Linked DNA regions of Homo sapiens. The protein of the gene in region 1 interacts with the protein of each later gene in a biochemical or structural test. Each region holds a gene or a part of one and is shown on either strand. Other genes may lie near its edges.

Region 1 (6,846 bases):
CTTAGGGGTAAAGGTGAGAAGTAGAAAAAAGTGGTAGTAGAACGAACGAGGTCTGTAGGTGATGTGCTTGGATAGGTTGGGTGGGGATAGTTGACAGGGAGGGGCTTGGTGACAAGCTAAGGAATCTGGACTTGTTCCCGTAGATCATCAATAACTATTCTGATTCTTTAGCATTAAAGTGCAGTTTTAAGAACTTTCATCCAGCCTTGGTTAACAGGAGATACTAGAATGGAAACATATAGATAGGAAGATACTCTAAGTTTATTGCTATAGGAATCCGGGTGTGAAAGTGGGAATGGGGCTAAGTGGGAATGGAAAAGACAGGTTGAATCTAAAAGACATTGAGGAGAAATTTCCAATAGGCCTTGGTGATCAAAAGAATGCTTACAAAGGACTGAATGTTTCACAGACAGTATATATATCCCATATCAAATCAATGACCCTGGAATGTAGGGAAAGGCAAGAGTAGTGAAACTAAAGCTAAGGTTGGGTAAGTATCTTCTCCAGGGTAAAACATGTCTCCCCCTCATCTAAAAGACAGAAGGATGTTCTGAGAATCCTGAATGTTTTTCCTATTGAATAGTTTATCTTACCCTTGTAGTCTTCCCTGAAATTCTCCTCAATTAATGTTTATTGTAATCTAATTCCTGACCTCTGTGATACTGATATTTCCCCTTAAACTAGCATACTCCCCTCTTCTTGGAACAGGTGACATGGTGACCAGCACTCTTCTCTGTTGTGTTCTTCCTTCTGACCAAGCACTACAGCCACATGAGGCAGCAGTGAGATGTGGCCTTGTCACTCCTCTTCAGGTGCTTATCCACAATTTACTTCCCACAATTTACTTGATGGTTCTGGCAAAATGTTTGTGAGTCTTTTTTTATTGCATGGAATTGTGTTCACTTAGGTTTTATGCCAGACTGGTTTAAATGATTCATCATAAATTCTGAAACTCTTTTAGGTATTTGCCAACCTTTACTGCATGTCTTGTTTCCCCTCCCCAGCTCTTTATCTTCCCGCAAGATACAAATGAGTCAACACAATCTTCATCAAAAAGCATTGTGCTCTGTAGAAGGAAGTGTGATAAATTAAGTAGTAGCTTATTTTTTTAAAAAAAAAATAATAGCTCCAGCTACTTGGAAGTCTGAAGTGGAAGGATCACTTGAGCCCAGGAGTTCCAGACTAGTCTGGGTAACATAGCAAGACCCTGTCTCAAAACAAAACAAACAAACAAACAAAAAAACCCAAAACAAAAAAAATAATTAAAGTTTTTTGTTTTCTTCTTCAGTTTGTTTTTTGCTTGCTTGAGTGGTCTGCTCAGGAAATGGCCTTGTAGCTAAGTGGGTTTTGGGGGTTTGGTTATTTCACAATGTCTCTATACCTTTTGGGTTTACAGTAGAATAGATTGCTGCTTGCTTTTTTAAAAAAGTGTGAAGTTCTGCCAAGACACTATTTACAGATTCTTAGATTTTGAGGAAAGGGACTATGGAGGCATCTAAGCAAAATTTTTTTTGTTATCTCCTATTTATTTCTGTCTTCTCCCTCATTAAGAAGAAACAAGAAAGTTAGTAAGAGATTGTGCTGAAATATAGGCTTGAGAAAAATAGATTTAAATTTTATTAGGCAGGTTTGCCTCATCAATTAATAAAAATTAATAAAGTTCTAGTTTTGTGTAATTGAGGACATTCTAAGGGTACAGAGAAATTATAAAACTATATTATCTTCTTTGTCCAAACATAGAAAATCATTTTCCTTTTAGGATTATGCTTTGCTACTCTGCAATTAAGCAAGTTAGTTTGGAATGTTTTTATTTTTATTTTCTTTCCCAAAGTTACCTAAGGAGTGTTTTAATTTTTATCAGTAATCATGTCTGTATCTTTAGTTCTGAGTTGCTTTATTAACTGGCTAAGGATGTTTTTGTTTTGTTTTGTTTTGTTTTTACCATATTCTGGCTTTCTCAGTGTTGTATGCCAATCTCCTAAGACAATGTTTAGAATTTAGTGGGTACTCAATAAATTTGTTGAACAACTTAATGGATTTTTAAATGTTTATTTCTAATTTTAAAAACGGTATGATAATTTTAGAAAGCAAACTTTATCATAATTCTAAAATTATGATAATTTTAGAAAGCAAACTTACACAATTGATTCTTTTTTGCTTCTTTTAGTCTTTAACTATGTACACACTTTTACATGGTTTTAGTTATTACAAACTTGAAATTTTGTATTTTTATAAATCAAAGATTTCCCATATTTTATGTTTTAAAATAGCCAAAGTAAACATCACGTTACTTAGAGCAGCAAGAAATTCTCTCTTAATTCTAGATGGGGATAATTTAAGAAATATACTATTCCTAACAAATATTGCTGAAGAATGAGGGTTTATTTTAATTTATGTATACTGGGATTGAGTTTCTTAATTTGAAATATTGTCTTTAAGTTGTCTATAACCAAGATATCTCGATGATCTTTCTTTTTTTTTTGCAGTACTTAGTAAAGAGCATGCAGTATCTTTAATGTTCAGATTAAGCAGTGTTCAGAATCATGATATCCTGAAGGAAGTTTGAATAATGTTGCAAAACAGAAAGGATTGCTAATATCTTAAATAGAGGAAGTCCTAACAACACATTTCCCAGTTTTCTTCAGGATCAAGACTAATTTTGTTAACATTTGTTGAACTTCTGCCTTCAATAAAGATGATATACTGATTTTTGGATGTTCTCACACTGAATTAGGCACTTGGGTAGACTTGTACCCATTGAGAGGTTATGCAAGCTCAAATGTGGAAAGTTTTTCTAGAAGAGCCTGCCTTTCAGGGCCAAAATGCCACAGGCACAGCATAACTTCCTGAAACAAATTTATTTCCTAAGACATTGGTTGCAGAGTAGAAATGTGTTCTTTAGAAACAGTTCTTCAGGCTTTCTGCCCTAAAAGTTACAATGTTGTCAGCAAGGTGGTTGATTTTACTTTCTTTTTGTTCCATCACAGTTTACCAGCATTACATATGCAGGGTATTGAGCTAACTGTCTGGTCAGGTGCTCCTTGTGGGGGCCACTTGCTCTAGATCCTATATAGACCAACACTCTTAGTCTTTATATCCAGAACCCAAGTGAAGCTTCAAAGGTTACTGGGAGGGTTGAAGAGGTGCTGAAATCAACACTTCCCTTAATGGAGGTCAGCACTTCCCCAGTCCTGGGAGAGACACAGACTGTCAGAAGCATCTGACTTTGCTTCATTCAAAAGGGAGTTTGAGGTATATATAGCAGACTTAAAAGTTATGAATAAAAATACCTTCTGTGATGAACAGAAGTTTCTCATTGATCACACTGACAAGAAACCTTTCGATGAACAGTCCGGGTAGAAGACATGTCACTCACTCTAAACAGTGTCTGTCTTCTTTCCTGGGCCTAACTGAACTTTGCAGAGTTCATTTGGGACATAAGGAAACAGAAGGTGTCAACTTGGCCCTTGTGCTCACTGGGAAAATGGGGAGAGACAGAACTCATTCAGGAGACCTGTAATTCTGTTCTTTCTCTGGGAGGCAAGAAGAAAGGTGAGTTTTGCATATGGGTGATGGAATGGAATAATCTCAGTTAAGCAGACCACACTTTACGTTCTAGTTAGCCTCTTGTTTGTTAAAAATTTGAATTGTAACCAGGTTCCTTTGCTGAGAAGGAAGGCACTAGGGCCCTGGAGTGAGATGATGGCTGTGTTATGTGACCACAGAAGGTGGTTACGTACTAATTTCCTCTAGGGCTTGTGATGAAGTCAGTAAACCACAGCCTTCAGCATGCTCTGCTCAGGCGGCAGCAGTGGCTTTTTGGAGGTGTCTCGGCCATGACACACATTTGACATGCCCTCCCTCAACCTACTTATAGACTATTTTTCTTGCTCTGCAGCATGGACCAAAGAGAAATTCTGCAGAAGTTCCTGGATGAGGCCCAAAGCAAGAAAATTACTAAAGAGGAGTTTGCCAATGAATTTCTGGTGAGTCCTGTATGTGACCCTCTCAGGGTAGTTACATACACTATTTAACTGACTATGGGGGTCCAATTTTCCGAGACCAAATTGCTCTTGGGATAAAGTAAATATGAGACCTTGGCGGGGAAGACAGAAAAAAAAAAGTTTGACTTCTCTGAGTGGTTTGCATGTATTTCAGGTATTCTCTCAAAATTACTGGTTTTAATATTTTGTTTGCTAGTTCTTTGGAGTTTGGTTAGGAATCCTACAGAAGACATATACAACTCCAGATGTAAAAACACTAATATTAATTGAACATCCAGATTTCCCCAGGTATCTAAGTTGTGGTTTATGCTTTATATTACTAATTTTAATTAATATTAAGAAGAAAGAGACCAATGTTAACTTTTCATGCAATATTACATTTTTAGCCTCCCCTCTGGGATTCTATTTGGTTGACAAAGGTTTTTGAAGAGCACCAAAACTACCCACTGCCACAGTTTTTTTTGTTGTTGTTGTTTGTTTTTTTAAGATTCAGAATCTTACTCTGTCACCCAGGCTGGAGTGCAGCAGTGCAACCACAGCTCACTGTAGCCTTGAACTCCTGGCCTCAAGTGATTCTCTTGCCTCAGCCTCCTGAGTAGCTGGGGCCACAGGTGTGTATCGCCATGCCTGGCTAATTTAAAAAAAAATTGTTTTTTTCTTTTTTGTAGATACGAGCCTTGCTTTTTTGCCCAGGCTTGTCTCGAACTCCTGGCTTCAAGCAATCCTCCCATCTTGCCTCCCAAAGTGCTGGGATTACAGGCATGAACCACTATGTCTGGCCATCATTTTTCTTTTCTTTTTCATATGAAAAATATATTATAACATGTGTTTTTTCAATAACAGGGCTTCCTTAACTTCTTTTGCTTGGAGAAGTGGAATGGCTAGGATGGAGAGTAGAGACAAGTGTAGGTCAAGGAGAGAAACATGAGTACAAGGTAGCTTCAGGTTGGGTGGATTAGATTACCCAGAAGAACAGTGAATCTCCTTTGAGAGAACTGTGATTATTGATGCAATGGCAGCTGGGTAGGCCTCATTCACCCTACAAGCTGAGATATCAGATAACATAGGGTGTCTAATAGTACCTATCATGTATTTTAGAATGCTTACAGCTGGCGTTTCAGAGATATAAGAATTTTAAACCTTAGCTCTTCAGTTGTGAAGAAATGGGTGGAAAGAGGGGAACTGAAGTACAAACCTGAAATTAAATCATGATTTTTTTTCACCAAATTATGAAGTATTTGACATGTTCTTAAATCTCTCTGTTTTCTAACTTATAAAATGGGGATAATAATACATGTCCTACCTATCCTCACAGGATTGTTGTGATGATTAAATATCAATAACAATCATTAAATGTGGTCATTTATTGAGTACCATTTATTGAGCACTTAGTATGTACCAAGTTCAGTTCTAAGCACTAAAAATACAGCGGTGAACAAAAAGAACCAAAACCTTTGCCTCCTGGAGCTAACACTCTGGTACCGGATAGCAGATGTGAAAACACTCTGAAAGTCTTGAGTAATTAGATATTATTGAGTGATTAGATATTATGATAGGAACTCCGATGTCAGCTCAACATGGATAATCTTGTGGTACTATGAAAAATGTGCTCTCACTGCCACTGGCTGATCAGTCTGAGCCCCTCTGGTAGAGTTACCTGAAAGGAGATAAGTAGGAAGTTCTAGCACATGTGTATACATGTCCCTGCCCCTGGACTATAATTCCTAAGCCAAGGTAACCCAAGGCATAGATGTAAAAAGTGAGCTGAGGGGCAGTGCCGGCCTCTGTTTTATTTTGGTTGTGTTTTTTAAAATAATGTAGACTGGCCGGGGGCAGTGGCTCACACCTGTAAACCCAGCACTTTGGGAGGCCGAGGCGGGTGGATCACCTGAGGTCAGGAGTTTGAGACCATCCTGGCCAACATAATGAAACCCCATTTCTACTAAAAATACAAAAATTAGCTGGGCGTGGTGGCAGGCACCTGTAATCCTAGCTACTCAAGAGGTTGACACAGGAGAATCGCTTAAACTCGGGAGGCAGAGGTTGCAGTGAACTGAGATAGAGCTGTTGCACTCCAGCCTGGACAACAAGAGCGAACTTCTGTCTCAAAAAAAAAAAAATGTAGACTATATCCCTAATATTTTACCTTTTCTCAGCTAAAGTCATTATAATTTCTCACCAAAATATAGCAGCTACCTCCTAACTGGCTTCTCTGCCTCTAGCCTTGCCCCACCTTCAGTCAATTTTCAGTTCAACACCCAAGTGATCTTTTAATCATACAAATCTGGTCTTTTTTTTGGGGGCGACAAAGTTTTGCTCTTGTCACCCAGGCTGGAATGCAATGACACCATCTCGGCTCACTGCAGCCTCCACCTCCCTGGTTCAAGCGATTTTCCTGCCTCAGCCTCCCAAGTAGCTGGGATTACAGGCATGAGCCACCACGCCTGGCTAATTTTGTATTTTTAGTAGAGACAAGGTTCCACCATGTTGGCCAGGCTGGTCTGTCCAACCAGGTAATCCACTCGCCTCAGCCTCCCAAAGTACTAGGATTATAGGCATGAGCCACCACGCCCAGCCAAATCTGGTCATTTTTTCCCTGCTTAAAAACTTGTTATAGTTTTTTTTAGCTGCTTAATATTGTGCAATATAATACACATTTAGAAAAGTACATAAAACATTTAAGTATAATTATAAAGCAACCATTAGCAGTGCAACCACTACCCAAGTCAAGAAACTGTCAGACCCCCGAAGACCCATGCCCCATCAGGTCCCCTACACCCATCTGCCCCTGTCCTGTCCTACCCTGGCCAAGGGATAATCACTATCCTGACTTTTATATTAA
Region 2 (2,821 bases), on another chromosome or scaffold:
CACTAAATTGATGCAATTTGTCTTAATTCGTTCATTAGCTTTTAAAACAATTAATTTAAAAACAATGTTTGCATTTTGGTATTTTTCAGATTCAAATTCAGTAATACGGTTCATACGGGAGCTAATACGTGCATCTACCAATGAAAAGCATTGTATCTCATGATTTGCAAGGCACCCCTGGGGGGGTGAAGACCCCAGCTGGATGGGGGAGGGGGGGTTAGCGTTTGTTAAAATAGCTCCAGGTGATCCTAACGTGCACCTGGCATGGGGCACACTCATCTCCACACAGGGGAGCTGGGCTCAGCCAGGCACGCAGCCCTTGGGCCCACACCCGCCTGGCCTCAGGTTCCCCACTCCACCCCAGCCGCTCACTCACATGAAGGTGTCCCTAGGGTGGAGAGTGGGACCCAGCCCCATCTTCCCAGGGGTCACTTCCAGGCTCAGTCCACACAAGAACAGTCACCTCCATGCACTTTTCATAACCCACCCCTCCCCTGACACCTACCCTCACCCCGGAAAAGATGAGGGCGCTCAGACAAGAGGGAAGCTGGGTTTATTCTGGTGATCTACGCCTGACCACCTGAGGATGCCCAGGCTCCAATGTCAGGGCCCAGGGGAAGGCATCCGTGTAAGCAATGCCCTCAGCTCAGGGCCCTCCGGGAGCCACCAGCCCAGGACAGGCTGCACAGCCGCACCCTCCCGGACCTCCCTGCTCCCCAGCCAGAGAGGACAGGGGGCCAGGCAGGCAATGCAAGGCCGGTGTGGCCTGAGACACCCCCTACCACAGCCCAGCTGTGTGTGGAGACAACCAAGCAGGGCTCAGCCAGACTGCAGGACCTGGGGTGGGGCTGAGGGTGGGGAAGAGCCGGCGTGGAGGGCTCCCCTGGGCAGCGGGAGCTCAGGCACAGGCAGCCTCAGCCTTCTGTGTGCTGCCTGGGGGCCCTTCCACCTTGCTGGCCAGGCTGTAGTAACAGGCTCGCATGCGCTGCTCCACGGTCAGGAAGTCGGGGCGATCCTCCCACCTGTGGGGCGTGGGGTACATCCAGGCTGCTGACCACGCCCCCAGGACCCAGCTTCACCAGTGGGTGGGCATGCACTGTGCTTGGCTGAGGTAGACTTTTGGGGCTCAGAAAGTCAGCAGGGCTGTTGGGGTGGCGGGACATTGGGTGGTGGAGAGGACTCTGGGGTGTGAGAGCGTTGGGCAATGCCACACAGCCTAAGGAGGCAGAGCTGCCCACACACAGGGTGCTGGGATGACCCCTCTACCGAGCGTTGACCAGTGAGGACTCAGGGGACTGAGTGGACTTGGTGTCAGAGTGGCAACTATTGACCACGGGGACCTGGGATATAGAAAGCTGATGCTCTGTGCATGCACCTGGGGCCAGGGTATCAGTGTGCTGGGGCTTAGATGAGAGGGAGTGCAAGGCTGGTGATCAGCAGAAGCCTGGAGCATGGCAGTGGGTCTGGCCAGCGGGGAGCGGCAGTATTAACGGTACTGTGCATGGGGTATCCATGGACTGTGTTGGGGTGCTAGGTGCTAGCCTCTTTGGGTACTGGGGTGTGGTGCCCTGGGTGTTTCCTGATGGAGGTGGAATTAACACATGTCGCAGGAGGGTGGGCCAGCCAGAGAGGGTGTCTATCTGTTGGGCTGCTTGGGTGTTGGGGTGTCAGCATGCTAAGTGCTGGCCGGTGGGGGGTCATGCGTTACAGTGTCCACACATTGCATGGGCAGTCTAGGGCGTCCGCTTGTCTGGGGGTGTGTTGCCTGTTGTCTGATGGGAAGTTGGGATACTGATGGTGTTAGGAGTTGAGATGTCTGAAGGTTGGGCTTCAACCAGGCAGAGGTGGGGGCTGGAATAGATGAGTATTTGGTACCTCAGTGCTCACCTGTCTGGTAGTTGGGTGCTGTGTGCTGGCTGGTGGGGACTGGAGTGTTGGGTACTGGAGAATCATCTCATGCCCTGAGTGTCAGTGTCATAGGTTGAGTAGCAGAGTATGGACCTGTTTGCGTGTTGCAGGGTCCATGTGTTGAGTGATGGCTGAGGTTTTAGATGCTGAGGCACAGGCCCACAGGTGGGATGGCAGGGTGTGGCACACTGGAGCAGGACAGCAAACCCTGGTGTGTTGGAGAGCTGGGTGTGGGGGTAGGGGGCAGCTGCAAAGGCTATGAACTGGGTGAAGGGCTTTGGGTGAGATGACATTGGGTAGAGTTATATTGACATCAACTCATCGGGCACCAGGACTTTCCAGGGGTCAGCCCAGCCGGGTCCCCTCCCCACTGGCACTCACTTGTAGATCCAGCAGTCACTCATGAGTGCGTACAGTTCGGGTGGACACTCTGGTGGGCACTCCATCCGCTTGCCCTGCTCGATGAAGGCCATGACCTCCGGCCCTTTCATCTTCTGCTCAAGCCGGGGCAGAGACACCTGTGAGTGACCAGTGTCCTCCTCCTCATCCCCCTCCCCACCACACCGCCCACCTGCCTCTGCCCGCGCCTGCCTTGTAGGGCTTCTGGCCGTAGGACAAGGCCTCCCACATGGTGACCCCATAGCTCCAGACATCGCTGCGGCTGGAGAACTTGCGGAAGTTGATGCATTCGGGTGCGTACCACTTGAGCGGCCACTTCCCTGCTGAGCGGGCCTGGGGAGGGGGAGATGCTGCTGGATCAGGGGTCAGGGACCCTCTACCCACCCAGCCCATCCAGTCGGGCATCACAGGGGCAGAGGCTTACAGTGTAGTAGCTGTCGTCGGCACCCAGTGCTTTGGAGAGGCCAAAGTCGCTGATCTTGGCGTAGTGCCGGTTAACCAGCAGGACGTTGCG
Region 3 (7,853 bases), about 82 Mb from region 1:
CCCGGGTTCAAGCGATTCTCTTGCCTCAGCCTCCCAAGTAGCTGGGACTACAGATGCATGCTACCACACTCGGCTAATTTTTTGTATTTTTAGTAGAGACGGGGTTTCACCGTGTTAGCCAGGATGGTCTTAAACTCCTGACTTCGTGATCCGCCCACCTCGGCTTCCCAAAGTGCAGGGATTACAGGCGTGAGCCACTGCACCTGTCCTTCTGTGTGTATGTTATGTTTGAAAACAAAGTTTAAAAAAGGGAACTGCTCTGGTTGAAGCCCTGGGAGGGGCAGGGAGATGGAAGGCAAGGAGCCCATCCACAGCTCTGTCCTTCTCCTGCAGGCAGCCCTTGAGGGCTCCTTAGAGTATTAGCTTGAAATCCTTCATCTGTCCCAACAGAGCTCTGAGAAGGTCAGTGACTTGCCCAAGGTTCTGCAGAGCCAGCACTAGAACTCAGGTCTCCTGACTCCCAGGCCAGGGCCCTGGAGGCTAGTCCTTTCCTGAAGGGCTGGTGTCACGAGTAAGGACAAGGGGTGGCTAGGCAGCCTCCTTCCTGATCTCAGCTCCCTTAACATGAGTCTTGGGAGGAGGGCCAAGACTCTGGTATGAATGATGCTTTTCTCATCCTGGAGCAACTTCCTTTCTGGGAATTGGGTGTCTCCTTCTGGGCAAAGACAATAAAATTCATCCAAAGGGCCAGAGGAGCAGGGTTCCTCCGGCCCCCACCCAGATGGGCATCACGTGGCTCCCAAGTTAGCAGTCCAGGAAAATTCCAGCCCTTGCATACTTGGCCTCACACACCCATCTGCTCACTCACCCTGGCACATTCAGCCCCCCTAACCCACCTTGAACATTGACCACCACACACTCCCTGGCACGCTCTTCTCACCCTCAACTTCTGCCACCTCTCCCTGGGCAATACTGCCAGCCTTTCCCTAATCTCAGAGCTGCAGCCCTGCCCTGTCACTCACCTCAAACCTGCCATGTCCCTGGGGCTACTGAAATTCCAGGCAGTGGGTGAAGAGGACGAGGAGGATGAGGAGGGGGAGAGCCTGGACTCTGTGAAGGCACTGACAGCCAAGCTGCAGCTGCAGACTCGGCGGCCCTCATATCTGGAGTGGACAGCCCAGGTCCAGAGCCAGGCCTGGCGCAGGGCCCAAGCCAAACCTGGACCAGGGGGACCTGGGGACATCTGTGGTTTCGACTCAATGGACTCCGCCCTTGAGTGGCTCCGACGGGAGCTGGTGAGTCTGGTGGGGTGGGCAGCTTTGCCCAGGGCCTTCAGGCTGGTCCTCCTTAGGGTCCAAGACCACAGGCATGGGGAAGGGATGAGAATGGACCCTGCCTCCAGCAACCGCCCGCTCCGGTGTCCTGGGCTGAGGAGCCGGGAATGGACTTGTCCAGTGTTGTATTCAGGGAGGCTTGCTGAAGAAGGATTCCATCCAATCTACTGACCTTGTGCTCCTGTTGCTTAGGGGACAGAGCACTGGTGTTGGGGGGTGTGGGGCACCATTATAAATAGGGAAATACACAGCCTCCCCTACTCTGGGACTTTCTATGGCCTAAAGATACAGCGAAGTGCAAAAGGAGGCACTGGCCATGCTGCAGGCAGATTCTGAAGAGGTGAAGTTTCAGTAGGTGGCTCCCAACTCAACATGTGCAAATATAAAGATACCCAGGCTCCAACACAGAGATTCTGCTTAGTTGATTTGGGATGGGGCCCAGGCAGTTGGATTTGCTTAATAATGACTCCTTAGCTGGGTTTGAGAACCACCAGGTGAAGCCAGATTGGGAGATAGGGAGAGATCAAGCTGAGGTGAGAGGGGGCTGGGGAGGACACAGTCAGTGCAAAGGCCCAGCGTTGCCAGGAAGGGAGAAACGGCGCGCGGCCGAGGGCCTGTCCAGTAGGCTCACGCCCCCTCTCGGCCGCAGCGGGAGATGCAGGCGCAGGACAGGCAGCTGGCAGGGCAGCTGCTGCGGCTGCGGGCCCAGCTGCACCGACTGAAGATGGACCAAGCCTGTCACCTGCACCAGGAGCTGCTGGATGAGGCCGAGCTGGAGCTGGAGCTGGAGCCCGGGGCCGGCCTAGCCCTGGCCCCGCTGCTGCGGCACCTGGGCCTCACGCGCATGAACATCAGCGCCCGGCGCTTCACCCTCTGCTGAGGAACACCTGTGCCCCCCGACTCCCCGCCCCCTCTCCCAATGCCGCTTCCCCTGCCTGCCTGGGAAGAGGAAAGGGAGGGGTGCCCCAGAGGCACCAGCTCCTGGCGGGGGAGGAGGAACATTCAGGTTTCTGAGAGCTGAATTCCAAGAGTGCAAAACCCCAGCATCCTGTTTCCTCTGCTGACCCAGCTGGGAGGGGGAGGAGGAGGAGCTCACACCCTCAAACTCCTCAATAAACGCTTTCTCTGGTTCCCATCAAGGTCTCTTGCAGTCGTTTATTCAGGCCCAAGGCCGCTATCTGAATGTCGCCTGTCACTGGGACCACCCTAGTTCACTGCAGGCCCATGGGAGGTGACTTAGGTAAATTGGGCTCCTGAAGAATGCAGAATCTGAGAGACATGGGTTCAAAGCCAGCTACCCCGTTTATTTCTTTTTGTTGTTGTTATTTCTTCTGCTTCTTTTTTTTTTTTTTTTTTTGAGGCAGAGTCTCACTCTGTCACCCAGGCTGGAATGCAGTAGCACAATCTCAGCTCACTGCAACCTCCGCCTCCGGGGATCAAGCGATTCTCCTGCCTCAGCCTCCCAAGTAGCTGGGATTACAGGCGGCCACCACCTCGCCTGGCTAATTTCCTTTCTTTTCTTTTCTTTTTTTTTCTTTTTTTTGAGATGGAATTTCACTCTTTCGCCCAGGCTGGAGTAGTGGCGCGATCTTGGCTCACTGCAACCTCCACCTTCTGATTTCAAGCGATTCTCCTGCCTCAGCCTCCCAAGTAGCTGGGATTACAGGTGGCCACCACCTCGCCTAGCTAATTTCCTTTCTTTTCTTTTCTTTTTTTTTTCTTTTTTTTGAGATGGAATTTCACTCTTTCGCCCAGGCTGGAGTAGTGGCGCGATCTTGGCTCACTGCAACCTCCACCTTCCGATTTCAAGCGATTCTCCTGCCTCAGCCTCCCGAGTAGCTGGGATTATAGGCACCCGCCACCATGCCCGGCTAATTTTTGTATTTTTAATAGAGACAGGGTTTCAGCATGTTGGCCAGGCTGGTCTCAAACTCCTGACCTCAAGTGATCCACCTGCCTGGGGTTTCCAAAGTGCTAGGATTACAGGCCTGAGCCACCGTTTATTTCTATTCGACCCTGAGGAGCTCCCTTAACCCCTGAGTCTGTTTCCTCACCTCCACAATGGAGATGCTGATTCTCACTCCACAGGCAGCAGATGTGCCTTACGGGAGATAGTGCACAGTGAGCGCTCAGTGAATATGAACTATTACTCACTCCCAGCGCGGCAGTCTTTCTACTCTGTGCTGAGACAGGGAGATGGACCGTGAAGTGTTCAGGCTTACATTGCAAGGGAGTCTGGGCCCTGCACCAGGCTTGGAGCTCCAACTCTAGGCTCTGTGTCACTGTGAAGGTTTTTCACTTTGTCTCTCTCAGCCTTTGTTTCTGTGTTACCCTCTTTGTCTGACTTTCCAACTCAGGCTTCCTCTTCCCCCCACCTATTTCCTGCCCCCACTTCTCTCTGCAGCTGAGGTGCACACAGCATCGCTTCCACCTCACAAGCCCCAACAATGCTCTGTGGGTTCCCCTCCCCCTACCAGCTCACTCAGGCAGTGACGCATGTGCACTTTCCTCCTGGTGGGGTCAAGGCCGAGTTCTTGGACCTGATGAGGCCACCTGGAGTTCCTCATATCACTGGTGACCTGGCCCTCAGCTAATGATGGGTGCCCCCTCAGCCTGGCCCCAGGGGAAATGGAAATTCTTTGCCTGCCTGCTGCTCGTGACAATCTTCTTGCCTCCTGCTTATAACAGAAAGTCCTGACAGTCTGTGGCCTGCACCTGGGGGCCTGAGCGGCCCTGTTTGCTCTGTCTTCCACCTGTTGCAGGAGATAGTGCCAAGCCCTCCACCTCTGCCAGGGGCTGTGGCCTTGCCTCTACCTGAATTCGAACTGTTGCCCTACTCTCCAACCATGATTAATGGGTGTTGTCCTGGCCTCTGACTACAGCAGGGGCCGTTACTATGCCCTCTTGAAGACATGAGGTTGTCCTGTCTGCCTCCTGAAACAGGCTGTTTTCCAGCATTCTGTCTGTAAGAGGGATGGTAGCCTGCCATTCACCTACCCTTGACTATAATAAAGCTACTGTTCCATGCCCTGAGATGACATGGGAATTGTTCTCTCGGCCTGACCTGACTGTAACATGCATGGTCTGCTCACCAGCTATTTAACAGGGATATTGTCCTCTCCTCTGACTCTGAACGATGCTACCTTTGCTGCCAGACAGAAACAAAAGGGTCTCTCAGCTGCAACGGTGGTGCTGAGGTGCTGTTTGCCTCTCACCATAAGCTGAGTGTGTGTCCGCTTGCCCCCTGCTCACTGGGCCCAAAGGCTGCCCTTGAATCTCTTGCCCAGATGCACCCTGGAGGGCAGAAGGGAGGGTCTATCAGACATCCTCCCCTCAACTTTAAACCTCCCAGTGTCACCCTGGGACAGTAGGGGAAGATGGACCTGGTCTGGAGATGTAGGGGACCCCCAGGGGCTGAGAGGCAGGGGTCTATGGTGGCAGGAAGCTTGGCGTGCTAGAGGGTTGTGGTTGGGCTGCTGGGGCCCGGTTGGCTGCGGAGCCCTCCGGAGGAGGCAGGAAGTCAGGGTGGGACGTGGGCGCGGGGAGACAGGTGGTGGCTACGACGGCGAAGGGAGCTGAGACTGTCCAGGCAGCCAGGTTAGGCCAGGAGGACCATGTGAATGGGGCCAGAGGGCTCCCGGGCTGGGCAGGTAAGGAGCGCTGGTATTGGGGGCGCAGGCGCCGGGGTGAGAGGCCTGATAGCAGACGGCTGCAGCTGTGCGGGCCCAGGCTCCCTAGGGATGCAGCAGCCCTTTGTGGCTGGGGAGAGAAGATCCTCGCTCAAGGTCAGGTGGGAGGCAGGCAGTGTAGCTGGGTCGCCTCTTTCCTGCGAAGCTGGTGTCGCTTGCCTCTGTCGTGCTGTCCACCAGTGGCCCCACCTGACTGGGAGCGTGTTTCCTGGACACCAGGCACATGGACAGTCAGGTGTTAAAAAGGCTTCCAGAAACCACCAAGCCCAGTCCCTCAGGCCATGAGGATGAGGCTCCTGAGGCCCAGAGAGAACAAGGCACTCACTGCCCACGGTTTCTCAGCAAGGCAGTGGCAGGGCTGAGAGTGATGGCTGAGGCTGTGGCCACCCCGCCTGGAGCAGGGTGATGGACAGGCTGGACTCAGAGGACCCAGGAATCCTTCTGGTTTCTGGGGCAGACCCCAGTGACAAGAATCTCCTGAGAAAGAGAGAGAGAGAGAGAGAGAGAGAGAGAGAGAGAGAGAGAGACAGAGATCACCCAAGGCATCCAGATGGACATGCGAGGAGTGATTTTAGCCTCAGCGATCGAGGGAAGAATCTCCTGATGGGCGTGAACTGATATGTGTGGGGGTGTCCATCATCTGGGATGGAGCTCCAGGGTGGATGGACATATCTGATCTGAGTATGGGAAGTTGGAAGTGAAAGAGAATGATGGGAGAAAGGAAGAGGAAGTACTATTTTTATCCCAGACAGGGGTGCAGTTGGTCCTGGGTGAGGAAGCGCTGAACTTCCATCTGGAAAGTCACCATTCCTGCCCCTGCCAAGCGTCACAGCAGGATGTCCTCCCCTCGCCCCTGGCTCCCTCCCGCTTCAGCCCTGCCTGTGTAGGGCCAGTTGGTTTTGCTGATTCCTGCTTCAAACCCCAGGGAGGTGGAGAGAGACTGGGGAGGCATAGTTGCTACCTGCTCACCTCCTCACTTTTTAACTCTGAGCCTTAATTTTTTTGGGAAGTCCTCACTCAGCCAGATTTCCAGGTTTCCCCTGCTTCGTTGGAGTTTTTCTTGACACACACTTTCCGCCTAGTCAGCTGGTCCCAGCCTTTCTCCTGTCTACAGCTCCAAGTCCTGTAGCCTCTTGTGGGGGCTAGGGAACATGGTGGCTCTCCTCGCACTTCAGGGAGGGTCATTCACCCTGGACAGGCATGAGCAGTTCCTTCCACCCAGCCCTATGCTGACAGACGAATCAGACAGGGTCCCTTGCTCTTGGGCCCCAGGAACAGAGGCTCTTCTCAAAGAGAGAAGGGCCAAGTGGACAAGGGCCAAGAACAGGCTGAGCATTGGTTCAGAGGAGGGGAGAAGGTGTCTCTTAAGATCTGGAAAGCTTCCTGCAAGAGTCAAGACAGTTCTGAGAAGGAGAAAGACCCATTTTCAAGAGTGCGTAGGACATGAAGCCAAGGTCACTATCCCTGGATTCTGTTCCTTGGGTACCACGAGGGCAGAGACCTCAGAGCAAGACCAAAGGCCAGAGAGCCCACAGGTGTGGTGTGGAGCAGAGAATGTGCATTTCAGAGACAGGCCGACCCAGTCACAATTCCGCTGGACCATTTCCTTGAGCAAGTGGCTTCATCTCTCTCTCTGAGCTTCAGTTTACTTATCTGTAAAGAGGCAATAATCAAGCTGGGCACGGTGGCTCACACCTGTAATCCCAGCACTTTGGGAGGCTGAGGCGGGCAGATCATTTGAGGCCAGGAGCTTGAGACCAGGCTGGCCGACATGGTGAAACCCTGTCTTCGTTAAAAATGCAAAATTAGCCGAGCGTGGTGGCAGGTGCCTGTAATCCTAGCTACTCAGGGGGCTGAGGCAGAATTGCTTGAACCCGGGATGCACAGGTTGTAATGAGCAGAGATCGAGTCATTGCACTCCAGCCTAGGCAACAGAGCGAAACCCCATCTCAAACAAAAATGCCTCCCGGGTTCAAGTGATTCTCCTGCCTCAGCCTCCCAAGTGCTAGGATTAACAGGCGCGCCACCATGCCCAGCTAATTTTTGCATTTTTAGTAGAGATGGAGTTTCACTATATTGGCCAGGATGGTTTCGATCTCCTGACCTCGTGATCCGCCCACCTCGGCCCCCCAAAGTGCTGGGATTACAGGCATGAGCCACCGCACCTGGCCAGCACATAGTAGGTGTTTAAGGGAGGTGGGGCACTCCCTCCCCCTGCAAATGATGCACCAAAGGGAGGGCTGTCCACACCCAAATTATGCCCACTCAGCACCTTGGTGGGCCAGTGAACCACCCATTCCCTCACACTTGTGGTGTGGCTTTGCAAATCAGCCTGTTTCCTGTATACAGTGTGAGGAGTGTGAGAACTCAGGCAGGCTGGACTCTGAGCGGGGCCATGGGATCTACTTTAGAAGAGGGTCTCTCACGCAGCCACACACAGACACACACACACACACACACACACAAGCCAAAACACCATACATATCATGGGAAAATCTACGTGTACAGATGTGTTCAGAGGCAGGGCAGGGGCTACACATAAAACACAGACTACATCCTATAACTCCATGCACACACCCACGAGCTGATGGCTTCAAGGCCAAGCTCAATTCAGTGAAAGTAATTCTCAGTGGGGTGGGGTGGGGTAGGTGGTGAGGAGCAGGTGGGACCAAGGTACCATCCAGTAATGGGGCCTCTCACAATCAACCTCAGTGTTGATTTTAAAGTATCTGGAGCTAGGGGTTTGAGGCTGCAGTGAGCTGTGATCGCTCCACTGCACTCTGGCCTGGGTGACACAGCTAGATTCTGTCTCTAAAAAATAAACACGGCAGAGTGCAGTGGCTCACGCCTGTAATCCCAGCACTTTGGGAGGCCAAAGCAGGTGGATCAC

Evidence for each region.
Region 2: the proteins of PTPN22 (region 1) and ZAP70 form a complex in vitro, tested with the Homo sapiens proteins (one study listed by IntAct).
Region 3: of the proteins of PTPN22 (region 1) and LCK, one has a biochemical effect on the other in vitro, tested with the Homo sapiens proteins (3 studies listed by IntAct, with this or other methods).

The regions. Positions count from the first base shown.
Region 1 is NC_000001.11:113,868,677-113,875,522, reverse strand, and holds the start of PTPN22 (tyrosine-protein phosphatase non-receptor type 22), read left to right. Parts: upstream 1-3,810; 5' UTR 3,811-3,899; coding exon 3,900-3,986; intron 3,987-6,846. UniProt on the Homo sapiens protein: Acts as a negative regulator of T-cell receptor (TCR) signaling by direct dephosphorylation of the Src family kinases LCK and FYN, ITAMs of the TCRz/CD3 complex, as well as ZAP70, VAV, VCP and other key signaling molecules.
Region 2 is NC_000002.12:97,737,576-97,740,396, reverse strand, and holds the end of ZAP70 (tyrosine-protein kinase ZAP-70), read right to left. Parts: coding exon 2,732-2,821; intron 2,641-2,731; coding exon 2,500-2,640; intron 2,403-2,499; coding exon 2,290-2,402; intron 2,097-2,289; exon of another isoform or gene 1,888-2,096; intron 1,023-1,887; coding exon 899-1,022; 3' UTR 537-898; downstream 1-536. UniProt on the Homo sapiens protein: Tyrosine kinase that plays an essential role in regulation of the adaptive immune response. Regulates motility, adhesion and cytokine expression of mature T-cells, as well as thymocyte development.
Region 3 is NC_000001.11:32,246,448-32,254,300, forward strand, and holds the start of LCK (tyrosine-protein kinase Lck), read left to right. Parts: upstream 1-4,817; 5' UTR 4,818-4,924; intron 4,925-7,853. Other genes in the region: protein FAM167B, read left to right, coding at 975-1,235, 1,924-2,154. UniProt on the Homo sapiens protein: Non-receptor tyrosine-protein kinase that plays an essential role in the selection and maturation of developing T-cells in the thymus and in the function of mature T-cells. Plays a key role in T-cell antigen receptor (TCR)-linked signal transduction pathways.